Linked DNA regions of Homo sapiens: region 2 is linked to region 1. A link means that fine-mapping ties the variant in region 1 to the expression of a gene that starts in the linked region. Tissue or cell type: whole blood. Region 1 holds a variant in brackets; the other region holds the start of a gene. All regions are shown on one strand. Distances are from middle to middle.

What was found. PIP is the estimated chance that this variant, and not a neighbour inherited with it, causes the effect.
Region 2: it holds the start of PWWP2B, and the variant in region 1 is fine-mapped to the expression of PWWP2B in whole blood (TOPMed, PIP 0.96).

The regions. Positions count from the first base shown.
Region 1 is chr10:132,417,880-132,427,474 of GRCh38, forward strand. No RefSeq gene overlaps it. Among named protein-coding and RNA genes, the nearest start is that of LINC03068, 22 kb to the right of the region's middle. RefSeq lists enhancers at 441-1,344, 1,345-2,249, 4,060-4,963, 5,781-6,307 and silencers at 3,373-3,422, 3,453-3,512, 3,543-3,602. The variant G/A (reference allele first, on the strand shown) is at 3,942.
Region 2 is chr10:132,392,353-132,401,947 of GRCh38, forward strand. PWWP2B (PWWP domain containing 2B) reads left to right here and starts at 4,848. Exons shown (of 3, transcript NM_138499.4): 1 at 4,848-4,999. The coding sequence starts at 4,875. It overlaps LOC124902526 (a long non-coding RNA gene), which reads right to left and starts at 4,204. Exons shown (of 2, transcript XR_007062342.1): 1 at 2,309-4,204; 2 at 463-1,978. RefSeq lists enhancers at 2,766-3,289, 3,290-3,812, 5,383-5,905, 5,906-6,428, 8,415-9,191 and silencers at 3,621-4,000, 4,021-4,450, 4,861-4,970, 4,981-5,120.

The DNA.
Region 1 (9,595 bases):
TTAAATGTTAAAAACAAAAAGAGAGAGAAACATATGTCATAGTTGAAGTTGTGACTTGTGCGGCCACAGTTCACACTCATGCGTGTGTCCCTGTCGGGGCTGACGGGGCCTGAGTCCCCTGGGCACTGCTGGGCGGGGCCCATGTCGTACGGGTTGGGGTGACGCCGCCACCGGCTGCATCTCGCTGCCTCCAGGTGGGGGGACGCTGGTCACCGCCCTGAGCCCCAGGAGGGCTGTGGGCTGAGTCCCCATCTCCAGGCCTCCCTGCTGGCTTTCCAGTGGACGCTGGGATTTCCTGGAGAGGCAGTGCTCTGCACGCGGGGAGCTTTGTTCTTTGTTTCCTGGAGTGACTCCTCTCATCCCTTGTTTCTTGATTTGCTCATTCAGAACCAAGGGAGATCTCAGAGATGACGATGGTGGCTTTGCTTGTTCCTGGTTTTGCTAGAACATTCTGTGCTCTAAAGGCATCGCTGCCCTCAGCAAGGATCGTCTGGCGGGGGAGGGGTCGGGGGAGGGCAGCAGCATACACCTGGAGGGTCCTCTCCAGGGCACATGAGGGAACAACCCTCATGGTTTCCTATGGTTCTGGACCTGACTTGCGAGGAGGGGCATGGTTTTCAAACTGGTTTGTAGCAGCAGAGCCCTTTTCTCCAACAAAATCACCCAGAATCACTTCCTCCCGGAGGGGCTGGGCTCATCCTCCTGAAGCCCTCCAGGCCCAAGAGTCCTGGGAAGCCTTTGAAAATCCAGGGAGGGGCTCGCATGAGCCCAGGAGAGCAGAGCCAGGACTTGAGAGGAATGAGAGCAGCTCCCCTTCCCCTCCTCCCTCCCCGGCCCTGCCCACGTGGGTGCAGCAGAGTCAGGGCCCTGGCCCTTGGGGCTGGGCATCTCATCCCTCTGAGCTCCGGTGCCCAGGGGCTGCCCCTGCCTGATCTGCTGCTCGGGGTGACTCCCCCTGCCGCACACCCCACTTTGCACCCAGGACCTCCTACTGACTAGGGTTGGCTCCCCTTTACGAAGGAAGGCCTTCGTAAAGCTTGGCACTGCTTCAAGAAATGTGTGTGTCCAATGGAAGGAGCAGGCCTCACCCCTGGGACAAAATATGCGTGCAGCCCTGGGCACATTCACTCCCAGCTGCCCAGCCTGCAACTAGAGCTCAGCCACTGCAGGTGACAGCAACGGGACCCGCCTTTGAGCCTGAGGCCAGGACTGACGCCACAGCCTGCAGCTCCTCCCCAAGCCCAGCCCCAGCCCTTGCCCTTCAATCCTGAGACCCTGAGATGCATGGGTGGGGCTTTCATCCGGTGAGGAGCGGAGGCCCAGGGAGGTGGGTTCCCCAGCTGCCAGTACCCACTGGTCAGGCTGGGCTGGACCAGGTCCTGAATCCCCGCCCTTCCACCCATGGGCTCCCCAGGAAGGCTAAACTGAGGGAAGAATTCCTGCTGGGAAAGCCCTGTTCTGGGACCAGGGTTTCGTCCCTCTATTAGAGGGGGTCAGGGGGACACCTGGGAGCGGAACACCTGAGGGAGGAGCACCTGGCGGGGAGCCTTGGGGGAGGAGGCACCTGGGGGAGGAAGTCTGGAGGAGGGGTCTCCTGGTGGGGGGCCTGGAGGAGGGGTCTCCTGGGGGAGGGGCCTGGAGGAGGGGTCTCCTGGGGGAGGGGCCTGGAGGAGGGGTCTCCTGGGGGAGGGGCCTGGAGGAGGGGTCTCCTGGGGGGGGGCCTGGAGGAGGGGTCTCCTGGGGGAGGGGCCTGGAGGAGGGGTCTCCTGGGGGAGGGGCCCTTGGGGAGCCAACCCTAGTCAGTACGAGGTCCTGGGTGCAAAGTGGGTTGTGCGGCAGGGGGCTTGGGGCCTCAGCGGGGCTGCCCGGAGCTGGTCCTGGGCCTCTCTTGCTCTGGGTCTCCCCTGCTCTGGGTCCAGCCTCCCAAGCACCCCACCTGGCAAGACTTCCTCGCTCAGAACAGAGCCAACCCTGGCTGTCTTCCCAGGGTTTGTCGTGGAGAGGGCTCTGGCCCTTTAGCCTTCCAAGGAGCTTTCGGGGTTGGGGTACGTTTGTGACCCCAGTAGCCGCTGTGCTGGGGGCCCAGGGCAACTCCTCCGGGAGCAGGGAAGGCACTGCTGGCACCACCAGCCCCGCAGGGTCACCAGCATCCCGTCTCCACCAGGGCTGCTGCTGTCCCTCCTCTGCTGAGGCCAGCTGTTACCGTGTTCGACATGGACCAGGCCGTGTGGGAGGACACGGGGTGGCAGGTGCAGGGAGCACGGTCTGTTTTCTGTCACTCTCTGGTCCCAGCCTGAGCCCCAATCCCTACCTCTGAGGGTCACACTTCCAACCCACCCCAGACAGAGCTGGAAGCAGGGGCTGGCATGGGCGCTGGGGTAGACGCAGGGGTTGTCGTGGCCTGGCGTGGAAGAGCTGGGCTGGACGCAGTGGGTGGCGTGGCCTGGGGTGCTGCTCTCCAGCCTTCTTTCTCTTCTTCCTCTTCCTCTTGTTCTTCATCTTCCTCCTCTTGCTGCAGATCCTCCCCCAGGTGGCTCCATTTCTGCTGGTCCCATCTCCCGGAGGCCCTGCCCACAACCCCCTGCCCGCCATCTAGGGGGACCCTGGCGTGGTCCAGGAGAGGGAGTCAAGGCCTGTGTGGGGCTCCTGGGGCTGGAGTCCTGGTCTGCCTTCTGGGGACAGAGACTAGGTCGCCCTGGGCTCCAGCTCTGTGGCCTGGCTGTGTGGGCTGGGCCAGGGCCTCTGCGTCACCTCCTTGCCTGGGCTTCTCACAGTGCAAGCCCCGCAGCCTAGGCCCTGCTGGGTGGTGGTGGGATGGCTGGGGAGGGGCAAGAGCAGGTGAGGAGTCCTCACTGGGGGTGCATACTTTGCATTACAGCTGGGGAGGCTGAGACCCGGGGGGCCACAGCTGGTTCCTGGACTCCAAAGCCCAGGACCCTTCCAAATCCTGCCTGGACGGCACCGTGGCCAGGACCCCAGCCAGCACTTCCCTTTTCTGCGAGGGTTTTCTGTTTCTTTGATTATAAAATAACCCCTGTTGGTGGGGGGAAAAAATTAGCAAAATAAAGAAAAGCAAAAAAAAAAAAGAAAATTAGAATCTCCCGCAGTCTCACACCCTGTGGGCCTTTTGCGTATTTCTTCCCGGGTGAGTTTTCTGGGCATTAACAGATGTTTGCTCTGCAGACCTGGCCTTGTGTCACCCTGGAACTCTGTGCCCAGCTCACCCTTCCGTGGCTTCCTGTGGCCGGGGGCTCCCTCCCCTTCCTGCCCCAGGTCTGAGGTGCCAACGGCTGCCTGTGGCCAGGGGCATCTCCCCGTGGACACTGAGGGAGGAGCCGCGGCAGGGCTGGGCTCTCCCGCTGGGCTCCCTGCACCCTGCGGCCCCGGCCCCAGCCCCACCCCCAGCCATGGGAAGGGTGCACTCCGGAGAGGCCGACGCAGATGGGGCCCTGCCCCTGGCCTGAGCGTGGCCGTCATCTGCTCAGGAGGGTTAAGCTCCTTTGTGCCCCAAGGAGCTTCAAGCCGATCAATACCCGGCTGGAAGTAGGGGGCTGCAGCTGGGGGGGCCCCACCGCCCTGACCCCAGATGGACTTCCTGCTCCCTGCCCAGCTTCTCTGCGGGGGGAGGTCAGGTCAGTGGGCCTCCTGCTTGGCCTTTGGGGCCACCGCCCCTGGGCTCCAGCTGAGGCTGTCCCAGGGCCGGTCTCCCTTCCCGCCCCCACCCTACAGAGGCGGCCTCACCAGCCAGCCTCTGCCCCAGCAGAGTTATTTTTAGCCCCAGCCCCGCCTGCTGCTACCACGGGCCTTTTCTCCGCAGAGAGAGGCGGGTGAGGCCTGAGGGCCTCACCCAGGGCAGCCAGTTCCCCAACCACGAAGGGAGGCAGGAGAGCTTCCCTGTGCGGGCAGGCGTCGCTGACCCTCCAAGGGGCAGAGCAGTGGGG[G/A]CTTCCTTCCTTCCTGGGTGTGGCTGGGGGGAGGGGGCTGAAGGCCTGGAGCCGGAGGGGCTTGCCCTAGAGCCCCATAGCCAGGCAGGGGTCAGTGTCCACAGCTGGAGGGGCTGGAGAGGTGAGAGAGATGGTCCCAAGGGAGCTGGGAGGCCCAGGAGTGGGCCCAGTGCTCAACCCGCTGCCAGGCAGGGACAAGACCTGAGAGATGAGAGGGCGGCGGGGGTGACCCTCGGAGGGCAGAGGGCGCCAGGACGGAGAGATGAACGGGGCAGTGGGGTGACCCATGGAGACCCACAGAGAGCAGAGGGGCACCAGGATGGGGAGACGGAGGCCAGTGGGGGCTGAGGGGTCCCGGGGGAGGACTGTAAGGAGCCACATAGTGGCTGCGGTCGGCGTGGCTGGGAGACAGGGGTCCAGGAAGCCCACTGGAAGCTGCCGCCCCGGCTGTAGCTGCAGGGCTCTCTGTGGGAGCCGGGAGCTGGGTGCAGAGCTGCGTCGAGGCTGCCTGAGGCCTGGCAGCCCAGCAGGAGGGGACTTACCCCCACCCCCCCACGGAGGAGAAGGCTCTGGGGCCTGCTGGGTGCAGACGCAGCTGGGATCTGCTTTGGGGAAGAAAACCTAGGCAGGTCACCGAGGCTCTGCCCAAGCCAACGCCTGTCACCTGTCACCGAGGTGTGGGTGTCTGTCCTCCTCCCAGCCGTCCATCCCCCTCCCTCCTGGCCCCGCTCCAGCCCGCAGCCCCCATGGGAGCCCGAGAGAGGACAGTCTCAGCAGGTGGCACAGACAGATGCGGACTCCTCACTGCAGGTCACAAGGCATGTTTTCAGAGACCAGCTGCGGTGAAGATCATCCAGCCCTTGGGCCCCTGATCCGTTTGGATACAGTTTCAAGCATGAATTTCTCCTTTGGTGGTTTGCTACAAAGAGAAGAGTTCTCATGATTTCTTTGGGGTGTTCATCCTATGATTTTGGGGTGAGGATTCGTGACAGAGACAAGCAACAGGAGTCCAGGAAGCCCTCGGGGGAGACGGGAAACAAGTCTTTTTGAAAAAACAGCTTTCTTTGAGACGTAGCTCACATATCATATGATCCCTCCCCTTCCAGTGGACACGTCCATGGCTTTCAGCGTGTTTATAGATGGGCAACATCCCCACGGGCCCTTTTAGAACATTCGCTTCACCTCAGAAAGAAACCCCACAGCTTTTAGCCATCACCCTCCTCCCCAGGCCTAAGCAGTCCCTCATCTGCTTCCGTCTCTGGGGACTTCCCTGTTCTGCGTTCTGTGTGACATGTGGTTGTGTGTGATTTATGATTGTGTGTAACATGCGTTCCATTTCATCCATGTGACATGCGGTTGTGTGGGAGATATGATTGTGTGTAACATGCGTTCTGTATGATGTGCGGTTGTGTGTGAGATACAGTTGTGTGTAACACACATTCTGTATGACGTGCAGTTATGTGTAAGATACGGTGTGTAACACATGTTCCATGTGACATGTGGTTTGTGTGATTTATGATTGTAACATGCATTCCATGTGGTCCGTGTGACGTGGTTGTGTGTGATACACCATTGCATGTAACGTGTTCCGTGTGATGTGTGGTTGTGTGTGACACACCGTTGTGTGTAGCATGTGTTCTGGCAGGCGGTCGTGTGTGGCTTCCTTCGCCGAGCACAGTGCTTTCACGATGCCCCCGTGTTGGCGCGTGCCTGTGCCCCATTCCTTTCTATGCTGAATGATGCTCCCCATGTGGGTGAACATATGGTGTTTGTCCATCTGTCAGTCTGTGGACATGTGAGCTGTCTCTGCCTTTTGGCTGCTGTGCACAAAGCTGCTGTGAGCTTTCCTGCAGTCTCTGTGTGGCTGTGTGTGTGTGTGGCTGTGTGTGTGGCTGTGTGTGTGTGGCTGTGTGTGTGTGTGTGGCTGTGTGTGTGGCTGTGTGTGTGTGTGTGGCTGTGTGTTTTTGCTTCTTTCAGGCTCACCCCTGGGGGTGGAGCCGCTGGGTCCTGTGGGTCATGATCATGTGCGTCATCTTCAGGAGGGTGCCAGGTTGTGCTCTGCAGTCCTAGGCAAGTGGAGGTGGTCCCGCTGCCAGCTTCAGCCTGAAGAGCAGGTGCTGAGTGAGGTGCTGAGCTTCCTGGTGTCCCTGCTGCACCCTGGTAGGCCAGCACCCCACCCACCAGAGCAGCTGTGGAGAGGACAGTGGGCATGGTGGGGACTCCAAATGGGACGCACACGGCCCCCAGGGGAGGCTCGGCTTGGGCACCCAGGCGGCCGGGGTATCTCTAACCAGTGGCTGCCCATGGGGTGAGTAGGGCCCTGCTGCCCCATCAGAGCTTGTCCCACTGTGGCTGGCGAGGAGATCAGCAAGGGCTTGAGGCCCATTCTCGCAGCCTGTCCCCTGCCTGGGGTGGCCTGGCATTCAGTGGTGGGGTCCCGGAAGCCCCGGTGCCGAGGCAGGTGTGCTCTGGCAGGCTTGAGCTGGGCCACCCTGGAGGCACCACTTGTCTTTGCGTTTCCCTCTCACCTGCTCCCTGGACAGGCCCTCTGCATTTGAGGGCCTGTTTGTGTCCCCAGGGCATCTCTGGATGGGCATGAGCACACAGGGACCCAGCACGTGGGTTCTGCACCATCCAGCACTGTCCATACAGGCCCTGGCATGTCCTCCTGGCCTGTAATTTTGTTCTGCATGGCTTGGTTTTTGCACGAAGGGGAGCACAGTATTCCTTTCTCATCCTCCAAAATGGATTGCAAATGTTCTGAGCTGTCACATTGGCGAGAACGAAGCCCCTGCTAATTGGCGCATTTTCCTGCAACCACTCCAGGCTGAGTTCTAGAGGAAGCCTCTGCCTTTCTGTCTCACGTTGCGCACTTTCTCCCTGAAATATTTAATGTGCTAAATTCCAACTTCACACACATCAGCTCTAAAGCCGACTAATCATTTAGCTTGATTGTCGAACTGAATTTGGCTCTGAGATTTTAAAATAAGAAAAAAAACTGTCAAGCTCTACGTAAGGCAGACACTATGGCTGACTCTTCACAAGAAAATATCTTTCTTTCTTGAGGGATTTGTGGCAGAGTCCATCTTTATGGAGAGTAGAAATCGTTTTACCCACCAGGGCAGCATATAAAATGTTAGGCAGATGTTAAATATTGATGTAGAAACTCAAAATACTTTGTCTCTTTCCAGAAATGAGCGTTTTGGTTTAATTACTCTGAATCTAATGACTGTGGAAAAAACACAACACGTGTGCGTTCCGAACGGAAAACATTTAGATTAAGGAAGAATTTCAGCTCCTCAAAACTGGGAAAGGAGCATACTGGGCCTGTCCTGCAGTGGGGCTGCTTGCTGATACTGACACGCATGTGCGACTGGGTGCCCATGCGTGTGCGTGCGTGTGCCGTGTGGATGCCGTGTGCCCGTGCCTGCGCGTGCGTGTGCCGTGTGGGTGCCGTGTGCCCCTGCGTGCGCGTGCGTGTGCCGTGCGTGTGCCGTGTGGGTGCCGTGTGCGCGTGCGTGTGCCATGTGGATGCCATGTGCCTTGCATGTGCCGTGTGGATGCCGCATGCCCGTGCGTGTGCCATGTGGATGCCGTGTGCCCGTGTGTCCACGTGCGTGTGCCGTGTGGATGCCGTGTGCCCGTGTGTGTGCCGTGTGGATGCTGTGTGCCCGTGCGTGTGCCGTGTGGATGCTGTGTGCCCATGTGTGCCTTGCGTGTGCCATGTGGATGCTGTGTACCCGTGTGTGTGTGCATGTGCCATATGGATGCTGTGTGCCCATGAGTGCTCATGTGTGTGCCGTGTGGATGCTGTGTACCCACGCGTGCGCGTGCTTGTGCCGTGTGGATGCTGTGTACCCACGCGTGCGCGTGTGTGTGCCGTGTGGATGCTGTGTACCCACGTGTGCGCGTGCGTGTGCCGTGTGGATGCTGAATTGCACTTTCAACGACGTGACCGTTCCTTCCTTGCAGGCCACCTCCGGAGGTGTTCACTGCCGGTGGCTGTACCTGGCCATAGATCTGGGGGCTGTGCTGCCCCAGGCATCCCACCCTGTTCCAGGACACAGAGGCCAATGCTGTTCCCCTGTTCCGGCAGGCGTGGGCTGCACGCCTGCTGGCAAGGGGCTCAGCTGGCCTGAGCCTGGGCCAGCTGTCCCTAGAGCATCTGCTCCTGTGGGGAGGGGGCGTTTTGACAGCATGGGGATAATTTTTTTCATAATTAAGAGTTTTTTTTTTAAGTGAATAGACTTTATTTTGTAGAGCAGTTTTTGGTTTACAGAGCAGGGAGCAGGTAGCACAGGGCATTCCCTGAGCCCCCACCCACAGTGCCCTTATGCCCGTCATTTGCATCGGCACTGGTGCCAGTCCAGGGCCTGTTAGGAACCAGGCCACACAGCAGGAGGTGAGAGGTGGGCAGGCAAAGCATTACCACCTGAGCATCACCTCCCGTCACATCAGCGGCAGCATTAGCTTCTCATACGAGCATGAATCCTATTGTGAACTGCCCATGCCAGGGAGCTAGGCTCCGAGCTCCTCACGAGAATCTAATGCCTGATGACCTGAGGTGGGCCAGTTTCATCCCCAATCATCGCCCCCCCCAGCCTCTGGTCTATAAGAAAAATGTCTTTCATAAAACTGGTCCCTGGTCCCTGGTGCCAAAAAGGTTGGGGACCACTGCTGCTGTTCCATCAGTTTTGACAAATGCACGATGCCGTGTGTCCACCATCACAGTATCGTATGGAATCATTTCACTGCCCTAGAAATCCCTGCGCTCTACCATTCATGATTTACTTGGACAAAAACACATACGGCCACCAAGGAAAACAGCCATAGTGAAGCAGATGTCAAAATATCAACAAAGCAGATGTGTGAGGGTGGCAGTGGCTGCATTACACGTCGCACTGGATAACAAAACCCAGCGTCCAGCAGCCCCTGAGTTTTAGAGGTGGAGGTGAGTGTGGACAAGTTTGAAAAACCTGCAACAACTGCAAAGTGATACAAACACACCTGTGTTTTCTATTTGAGATAAAGCCCTGGGATGGCTGGCGTTCCTCGTGGAAGGAAATGCCAGATTTCAGTCAGAGCTTAGTAAAATAGAGATGTTGCTTTTTCTCGTCCAAGTTCACAGACCCCATGAATGAAGCATCCCTGCTCTAGGAAAGCACGGAAAGCTTGTGCATCAGAGGGACATATGCCCACAGGGATTGAAAATGTGTTTTCAAAACAAGGTATGTTGTTTGCAAAATCTCCACCATTACAAATAGCCACGTAGGCTTCTGATGGCTCTATGTGCACAGCCAATTCCGAGTGAATTCAATTATTTCACATTGACAGGAAACAGGTTAATTAGGAGAAGTTGATTAGGCTTTGCAAAAGGAGATGTAATTAATGCCCAACCGCATGCCAGGCACGACGGCTGCATTTCAATGTCTTCACATGACTGAGAGAGTTACTGCCTGAGAGCTGGGAGACAGCAGGGGAGCAACCAGCATGCCGGCGCCTGGGGTGTCCAGCAAGTGGCAGGGGGCGCTGCTGGCCCAAAAGGTTAGCTCAGGTGTGCCACGATCCCCATCATCATCATCATCACTATCACCATCATCACACCATCACTATCACTGTCATCACAATCACCATCATCATCACCACTATCACTG
Region 2 (9,595 bases), 26 kb before region 1:
GGTGGGGTGATACTGATGATAGTCATGGTGGTCATGATGGTGATGGTGATGGTGGTAGTAGTGATGGGGGAGGTGGGATGGTGATCATGATGATGATGGCAGTAGTGGTGATGGTGATGGTGGAGGTGGTGGTGGTGATAATGGTGATGGTGATGATGGTGATGTGATAATGGTGATGGTGATGGTAGTGGTGATGGGGGTGGTGGTAATGGTGATGATGGTGATGGTGATGATGGTGATGGTGGTGATGATGGTGATGGTGATGGTGATGATGGTGACGGTGGTGACAATGGTGATGGTGATGGTGGTGGTAGTGATGGGGGAGGTGGGATGGTAATGCTCATGGTGATGATGGCTGTAGCGGTGATGGTGGAGACTGTGGTGGTGATGGTGATGCTGATAATGACAAAAGTGTTGATGATGGTGATGGCAGCTAACTCATGGAAGCTTTACTGGGGCTTGTGCTGTACTAAGTATCTCATTTAATATTAACTCATTTAATATTCAGTACGAGGCTACACGGTAGGTACCATCATATTTCCCACTTTACAGATGAGGACACTGAGGCACAAGGGAGGTGGCAGTCTCCCCAAGGTCACATGGCAGGACTCTAGCAGTTTGGCCTCAGAGTTTATGTGCCTGCCCAGCTCTCTGCACCACCTCGAGTGGAGTCTTGGCAGGTTCTGTTCCCAGCCGGTCCTTTGAGATACTGCCTCAGGGGATGTGACCCTATATCATCCTGATAACCCAAGGGGCAGGGAGACAGCTCCAGAACAGACAAGACAAAGTTGGCCTTGTAGACCCACACTGCCCTCCAAGGGCTTCCAGACTGGAGCAGAACAAAACAAACACTGCCCAAAGGATCTGTGGCCTGCTAGAAGGTCGAGGGTTCCTGGCTCAGCATCTGCAAAGATTGCCTTGAGCCCCTGCCTCAGACGACACGACAAGGGACAAGGAGTGTGTTCCCCAGGCCGGCCTCCCTGCCAGACACCTTGGAGGAGGCCTGGCGTGCTCCTGCTCCCTAGTCTGTCCAGGCTTCTTGAGTGATGAATGGTTGCTTACTGAAATCAGAGCAGGCCCTCTGTATTAAAGGCTTTATCCTGTCTCCTGCCTTCCACAGCTGCTGTGGGCAAAAGGCTTGCCATGAGGCGACCTGGGTCCCAGCCTCAAGGCCCATCCCTGCCTTTGGCCTCTGGGCACCAGCTCTGGAGAAATCTGTGGTCTCTGACTCATGGCTGTGTCCTGCGAGGCCTCCATCTTGACCAGACACCTTCGATGCATCTCAGGAGCACCTCACTATGCTGCATGAGACTTGCACACAGCCAGGCCCTGGTGAGCTCCAGTAAGATCAAGCAAGCCCAGGTGTGTTGGGGGTTGGGGGGATACCAGGTGATTCTGGAGCAGGCTGGACACAGGCCAGGCTGTGGCTGCACCTCAGTCATGGGGAGGCCGCTGTAAGCCTCATCTCGTGGAAGAGACCAACAAAGGCTGAGAACCTGCTCACCACTGCCCTTCCCAAGTCTCAGTGATGATGTAGTGCGGTAGGACAGTGCTGGGCAGGTCCAGGTCCAGCAGTCAGGAGGGCCCTCTAAGCTCGGACCTGGGGGAGCGACCCTGAAAGACGAGGGGCGGGCATGGAGCTGGTGATGCAAGTGAGCCAGGCTGCCAGGGAGGACAAATCCTGGAGTTCCTCCAAGGACCGCAGGGGAGGCAGACCCTGAGGGGAGGTGGCCTGCGGGGTTCCTGCCTTCCTCCCCTGCTGTCTCAGGGGACATAGAGGCCAGCCCCTGCTTCCTCCTCCAGCCACCTGTCCCTCCCTCAACTGTACCCCTTCAGGCCACCCATCCTGCCAACTGCTGGTCACCCACCCCCAGCCCCGGTGGAAGTTCCGGACACTCTCCTGTCCCCTTGGCTTACCCCATCTGACTGGCTGGGCCGTCCCGAGCTGGGCATGTCCTAGGCCTTGCTGCGGCTGTGCCTACAGCCAGAGGACCAAAGGCTTTAGGACCTTTTGTTTGGATCAAGTCTCTTGAAGACAAAGTCTAAAGACCTCGGAGGTGTCTCTTCCCACTCTTGGCCTTTTCACCCCAGCCAGGGGCGTACTCCCGAGGCTCCTCTCCAGCCCAGCCAGGCAGCTCAGGGTCCTCTCACTGTGGGCAGCACCAGCCCCAGTACCCAGGGTGCTTCCCAGAACTGGGCAGACCTCACTGACTGGCATGAGCAGGGTGGCCTCTGGGGAGATGCTCAGAGCAGCAAGCCTAGGACAGCCTCCCAACCCCCGAATACAGGGTCAGACAGGAGGGGATACCTGGGCTGATGAGGTCCCCAAGGACACCTGCACTTTAATCGGGGACTCTGGAAACTCCCATGGCCTCTTCTTCAACAAGCAGGTTGGAGCGGGGCGGGAAGCAAGTGGGAGCAGGTGCGGGGGCAGGGCTGCTGGGGGAGGCCCTGAACAGCCACCGTTTAAGTTGCAAAAATGGTCTCCCTGTCTGCAGATGGTCTTTTTTATACCTTACCTAGTGGAGAGCAGGTTTTAAAAACGGCTTCCAAGTTCACTTAACAATACACAGTAAATAGCACGGGCCAGAGGGGAAGAGGCAGAGGGAAGGCGGGCAGGGCAGAGGGAAGGTGGGCAGGGCAGAGGGAAGGCGGGCAGGGCAGAGGGGCAGGAGGTACCATGGGCCAGCCGTGCTTCTCACTGCCCTCTTCCCCTCTCCAGCCAGAGCTGCCAGCTGCTGGGTGCATCTGTCTGGCCCTCTGTGCCCCGGAACCCTCTTCCCCTGTCCTGCCCGCCGCCACCCAGCCTTGGTTCCTCTCAAAGCCCAGCAAGTCCACAGGTGGGTCCCTCAGCACACCCCAAACTGTTCCTCCTGCTGGCGTGGGAAGTCACCAGGAGCCCCAGGCGCACGCAGACACCTTGCAGAGGATCCTGCCCACCCCCACCCCCACCTCGGAAGCCCTTGCTTTTGCCCACCTGGTGGGGCCCTGGTGAATGCTGGTGCTCCCCTGGACACTCTTTCTGGATCCCTCCACCCACATACAGCCCCCTGTGCATTAGCCCCACCCCATGCTGGCCCCACCAGCCTGAATGCTGATTCACCCTGGCAGTCCCCAATGCTCAGAAAGGGCAGTGCCCAGCAGGCCTCTCCAGCAGGCAGGAAGAAGAGCCAAGCAAGTGGGCAGCCTCAGGATGGCCGCTCAGCCCAACCTGGAGCAGGGTGGCGAGGGGGTCCCTGCTGCCTGGCATTTTTCCTCCAAAGTCAGCCCCACCCCTGGAGGGGGCAGCTGCAGAGGCCTGTGGGCAGGACAGCAGGCAGGCTCCACTGCAAGCCTGGCAACCAGTGGGCAGGGGCTGGCTGACCCTGGAGAACGGGGCGCCTTGAGGTGCCTGAGGCCCCAGGAAGGGCTTAGTGTTGGCGGGAGCCCCAGGCCACACAGAGGAGGACAGACACTCACTGGGCTTCCAGGCCTCCTCTGGGACTGTCCCCGGCCAGAACTCTGGCTCATTCGGCCTCGGTCCCTACCCCTGTTCTAGCCGGACGGTCAGGTGTCCCAGGCCCCGCGGGCTCCCTCACTCCGCCCTGGCTCCTCTCTGAGGCTCCCACTGCCGCGCGGCCGCCGGAGGGCGAGGTCGACAGGCGCCAGCGACCCGACGGTCCCCAGTGGCACCAGGGGCGGTGGTCCTCAATTCCCAGGCTGGGAGGAGCCCTGCCCGGCGGCGCTGGGTCGCCAGGACAACTACGCGGTCCCCCGCCCCGCCTCCAGGCCTCGTCAGGCGCTGCAAGTCCGGCTCAGAAGCCCGGCCCGGGGCCAAGGTCACCGCAGCAGGCCGGGCCCCTGCGTTCTGAGCCGGGTGCGGACGTGCTGGTGCTCGGGGAAGTCGGGGGCTTTGACGCCTGAAGGCGCGGGAGCCGGGCGCCTGGGGGAAGGGGGTCCGGCGCCGTCACCTCCCACTCCTCGCCCGCGGGTCGGGGAGCCCCTGCCGCGGGGGAAGGAGGCTGTTTCCTTTGTAAACTGGCGGAGGCGCGCCTGGCCCCTGGGCCCGGCAACCCGAAGAGACACGCCCGAGACCTCCGGAGGGAGTTAACCCCCCGGGCCCCGGTGCCGGCCACCCCCAGGCGCGCAGGGTGGCCCTGAGCCGGGCGCGCGCCCGCTTGTCGCCCCGAGAGGCGCCGAGCCCAGTGGGGCGACCCAGTGTCCCGCCCCCCACGCGGCGAGGGCGACACTAGGCCGCTGCCCCCGGGCGCCCCGCGTCCCCTCCGCCTGCCCCGGCTTCCTGCGCGCGCCGCCCGGGACTTCCTCGCCGCAGTGCCCGGGGCCACCAGAGCCCAGCGCGGGGCGCTGCCGGGACACGCGGGCGGCCGACCCCAGGCGGGAGGATCCGGGCCACCGGGGAGGGAGGGAGGGCGCAGGGCTGGGCCCGGAGGGGGAGGGGGGCCCGGGACCGGCCCCAGGCAGGGGAGCGGGGGGATGGGGTCCCGGGGCTCCGGCCGCGGCGGGTGTCCCCCCCGCCGCCCCCGGGCTCGTGGCTCTCGGGTCCTCCCGAGCCAGGGGACACTCCCGGCCAGCGTGGGCCGCGAGCCCGGGCGCAGCCCCCTCTCCAGCCCGGGGGTCCGCACCGCGCGTCCGGCCGACCTCTGCGGGCGGGCGCGGCTTCTCCCGGGACGCGGCGGCGGCGGGCGGGGTCCCCGGGAGCGGAGCCCGCGGCCGCGCGCCCCCGGCCCGGCTCGGCTCGGCTGTGGCGGCCGCCCCAGCGGAGCTTTGTGACGTCAGGCGGCCGCGGGGCGGCGTCACGCGCGGGGCTGACCCGGCGGCGGCGGCGGCGGCGGCGGCGGCGGCGGGGCGGGGGCGGCCTGGGACGCGGCGGGAGCATGGAGCCGCGCGCCGGCTGCCGGCTGCCGGTGCGGGTGGAGCAGGTCGTCAACGGCGCGCTGGTGGTCACGGTGAGCTGCGGCGAGCGGAGCTTCGCGGGGATCCTGCTGGACTGCACGAAAAAGTGAGCGGGGGCGCGGGCCGGGACACCCCCGGGGTCCCCACGCGACACCCGCCTCCGCCGCCCGGAGACCCGGGACCCGCCTCCGGGTTGGGGGTGGCGTGGCCCCGGCGCCCGCTTTCGGTTTCTGCCGAGCCTGAGTTTCGGGGCGCGCGAGCGCGGCCGCCACTCGGGGGGGCAAAAGTGGTTCTCAAAGTCGTCGCGACTTTTCGGGGCGGGCGCCGGGCCGGGGCGGGCCGGGGCGGGGGGCGCGGGGCCGGGGTCCCGGAACTCCACACATCTGCCATAATTAATGCACTTTTCTTTGTTCAGAGCCACTGTTGAATTCGACTGTTGGCAGAATTGTCGTTAAAGCAGGGGAGGGTCAGATGCGCCGTGGCCTTGCCCTGGCAGTTCCTCACAGGTGGGGGTGCCCTGTCGAAGGCCACGGGCCCCTGGCTGCTGGGAGTGACTCCGCGGCTGAGGTTTGGATTCGGGGAGAGCAGTTGCGCCCAGCTGTGCGATTTAAGAACAGTTTCAGGCCAGGGAGCCCTGAGTCATGGGGGCGTGAAGAGGTACAAGCTGTGGGAGCCGTGGGCACATCCCCCGGGAGCCCTGGCTTCCTGGGTGGGGGGCGCAGGGCAGGGCGGGGCGGTTCCTCCTGAGAGGCACCTGTGCACGGGCTGCAGGGACCCATGCGGTGCAGATGAGCCTCCTGGACACCGCGTCACATGGCAGGGAGCTGTCGCTGCCAGATCAATGATTAGGCATGAATCAGGCTGTGGCCTCGCTGCGCTCCTGCAGGGCTTTCTTTTGAAACTGGGAGCAGGGAAAGGCTCCTCTTGTAAAGGCCCAACTTTTTCCATCCGTGGAGCCCAGATTTTTGCCTGGTGACATGAATTAGCAGAGAGGACCGTGTTCCTTCCACAATTATTTCGCAGACGTTATCTCTTCATTAGATGTGCCAGAAGCCATTTATCCACAAGTCACGTGATTTAACATATGGCTCCCGTGTGGTTCCTGCCCGCTCCGTGTGGGCTACCGCTGGGAGTGCACGGGCAGGATGGAGGGACACTCGGGGGGTGAGAATCGCCACCTGGGAGCTGCCATCCCCTCCACCATCGGCCTCAGCTTCCTCTGGCGGGCAGGGTTGGGCTTGGTCCTGGTCAGCAGGGCCGCACCCCTGCCAGACCTGCACCACCTTGCCTGGCCTTTCCTCCCTGAAGAGGGGCACGAGCGGCAGTGGGTTGCCCCATTTCCCAGGTTCCTTGACTCGGGACAAGGGAGGCTGAGAATATCTGCAGTGGCCTCGGGCTCTCCTCCCTGAGGCCCATGGCTAACCTGGTTTGCAAATCTACACCACCGCCTCCCCTTCATGGAAAAAACCAGGCCCGATGGGACCCCCGGCGTGGGAACTGGCAGCTGTAGGATGCATGGGTGTCAACCCTGCCTGCCACGTTCAGCTGTAACCAGAGCCGCCCACGGAGCCGGGCGCTGGGCCTCTGCGGGCACAGCCACTTAGCAGCCAACCTTGCTGCCTTGGGCTGGCCCCCTTGTCCTTGTGGGGAATCTGAAGGTAGAGCAGGCTCCCCGACCCCCAGTCCTGAGGCTTGTCCTGGAAGGACCCCTGCCCCCTCCCTCATCTCCCCTGTGCCTGAGTCTGTCCGGCTGTTCTCCTCTCCCCCAGCCCCAGTCCTGAGGCTTGTCCTGGAAGGACCCCCGCCCCCTCCCTCATCTCCCCTGAGCCTGAGTCTCCAGCCGGTTCTCTGCCCTTGTATTCCGAGTCCCAGGGCTCCTGTTTCCAGCCCTGCCTCGGACCGCAGGGTGCTGACCTGCCTTCCCCAGGTGCCAGTTTCTCATCAGGGCGTGGTGCCCGCCCTTATCCCCTGCATGTGACAGTGGAGGCCCAGTCCCCAAGTGTGGGTGCTGACTCACAGGGAAGAGCTGCTGGGAGCCCTATGACAGGTGTCCGCCCACCTCAGGGAACCTGTGGGTCCCAGCACAACCGGCGCTGTTGAGCGCAGGCGGCGGGCAGCCAGGCACCTGTTCAGAGCAATCCCACGGGAATGGCGGCCCCGCTCACACAGGCGCCGGGATGCAGGGCTGAGGTGGGCCCAGCAGCCAGCGTTTGTTGTCGGCCGGTTTGGGAGATGGCATTCTCTCCCTTGCTTGCAAAGCAGAGGGGAGAGGGGCTTGGCAGGTGGGTGGAATTGCCTGGCTTGTGCCACAAGGGCCATGTGATCTGAAGCAAGATTCTCTTGAGTGTCAGCCTGCGTGTACATCTGGGTGAGTTCACTGCACACCTACTGTGTGCCAGGAAGTGGGCTGAGCCCGGAGCAGGCGGCCTCCAGTGATCTTCCCCCAGTCTGGGCCAATGTGGTGGTGGTTCCTTCCAGAGCATCGATGACACAAGCCTTGTCCTGACCTGCGTTGTTTTGTGGGTGATTTGGGGACATGCTTCTGGTTGAGGATCTTGGGTGGGGTGGCCCTGGCTGAGGGGTGGCCTGAGGACAGACGAGGCTCCGAGTGCGGAAGGGCTGGCCTGCCCCACCAGAGCCTCCTGGCTCCATCTCTGAGCTGGTATTTATCGGCCTCCCCCAGTTGTGGGTTGCCTATGGTTCCAGACACAGACTGCTGGAAAGGTCAGGGGACTGTCCTCTGTGAACCACACCCTAGGCCAGACACCCTGGCCCACACTGAGAACCCCAGACACTGCCTGTCCCGGCAGAAGGGCACCCTGAGCTCTGTCCTGGGCTCACCTGTCCAGGTGGAGGCTGCACTGCTGGGGGCTGCTCTTGGGATGATTCACTCAACAACCAAGCGGGGGAGCACCTGGGCCAGGGCTGCAGTGGTGATAGGCTGTGCCCCCTGCCCTTGGGGAGTGAGAGGGACACAGGCCTAGTGCATTGAAGGCCAGGGCACCAGGAGGCCTGGCTAGCATGGCTGGTCTTCGGAGCGTCTCGAGGGGATGGCATCTGAGTGAGTGGGTAAGGAGGGTGTGGGGTGGGGGCCTGGCCTTGTGCTACTTGGGGAGCCCCACAGGGCTTAGAGAGGGACTATGCTGACGGCTCATAAACCCTTGAGTCCAGGACACAGGGGGCCGGCCGTGGCCACCTGGCCCCACCTGCTCTCCCCTGGAGATCCTGGGGCAGGTGCCCACAGGGTGAGGCAGGCTCCCCTTGTGGGGCCTTGGAGGAGGCGCTCCCCTGGTGTCTAGCCTGTGGCTTCTCCTGCCAGCCTGCTTTTCCCTAACCCCTGAGAGAGTTGGCCTGGGGAGACCCCACTGCCCCCAGCAGGCCTGACCTGCCCGCCCTTTTCCCGCATGCTGTCCTGCTGTGGGTGTCTGCAGGGCTACAGGGAGACTGCAGACGCTTTCTAGACTGACACTGGAGCATAGCCGAGGCCTTGGGTGCCAGACTCAGGCTGTCCTGCGCTGCGCTGAGGCTGCCTGTTCCTGTTCCAGGAGCCGCATTTTCTTTACCTCTTTAGGCCACAACAGGGTGTCCTTTCCTGATCAGAGAGTGAGGAAGGAAGGTCCAGGGTGAATGTGGGCCCGGGAGGCCAGGCAGGGGGCTGCCATGTGGGCATCTGCCATCTCATGGCCCTGGTCTGTAGAATGGGGAAGCCGTGGGGAGGCGCTGCCAGCGAGTGCAGGGGGCTTGGGCAGGCAGCCAGGGCTGTGCTCCTCCCGGCCATGGTCCCGGGCAGACCTCAGGCCTGGGCCTTTCTGGGAGTTTGGCTGAGCCTGACATCCAGGCGAGGCCCCAGGGCCGCCACGGCTGAGTTAAGGCTCGGCCACTTGTGTCTGGCTGAGGACCTCAGGCCTGGTCTCCAGGGCCCCCGTGTCCTTGCCAGGACACTGCTGTGCCATTGGGAGTGGCACTGGCGTACTTTTTGCTTTGGGGTCTGGTCCGTTCTGCAATTAGAGACTCCAGGGCGTCTCACCCCTGCCTCAGTTTCCCTAGCCCTTTCTCAAAGCAAAGGTTATTTGTTCTGTCCCTGAGCTCGCAAGGATGTCGCGTGAGGCTTATTTCAAGGGGCCCCTCGCATGTCCTCTTCCCCACAGGCAGGGCCCCCATGGGGCCCCCACATGTCCTTCCCTTCCCCACAGGCAAGGCCCAGCGGATGGCTCTAAAAGGGCAGCCTGGACCCAGCAGGCCCATCTAGCTCCAGGGCCACTCCATCTTCCCACCTGCCAAGGCTCGGTGTTACCTGTGGGTCACAGCCAGGCCAGTGGGGCCCCTGTCCCTAGGGGGTGGGTGTGTGGGGAACTACACTGCACCTGTGCACTTCCAGAAGGACCACTCTTCACGTCCCAGGGTCCAGGATAAGCCACTGAGGTTCTCCCTGTGCCAGCGCCGTCCCCGTGCCTGGAGACCCCCGTGGGTACCCACCCACTCAGCCTGGAGGCACGTTCCCTGGTCTCGCTCGGCCTCACTGGCCAATCTGCGAAATGGGAAGACTGTGATCTGTATCTCATGGGGTTGCTCAAGGAGGGCAGGAGCCGAGGTCCCAGCAGCCTGGGGGCTCTGCTGTTGGCTTTGCAAGATCCCTAGGGCTGGGTTCCCCTACCCGTCCCAGCCTGCGGAGTGAGCTGTTCCCACCCTGTTCTGTTCCCAC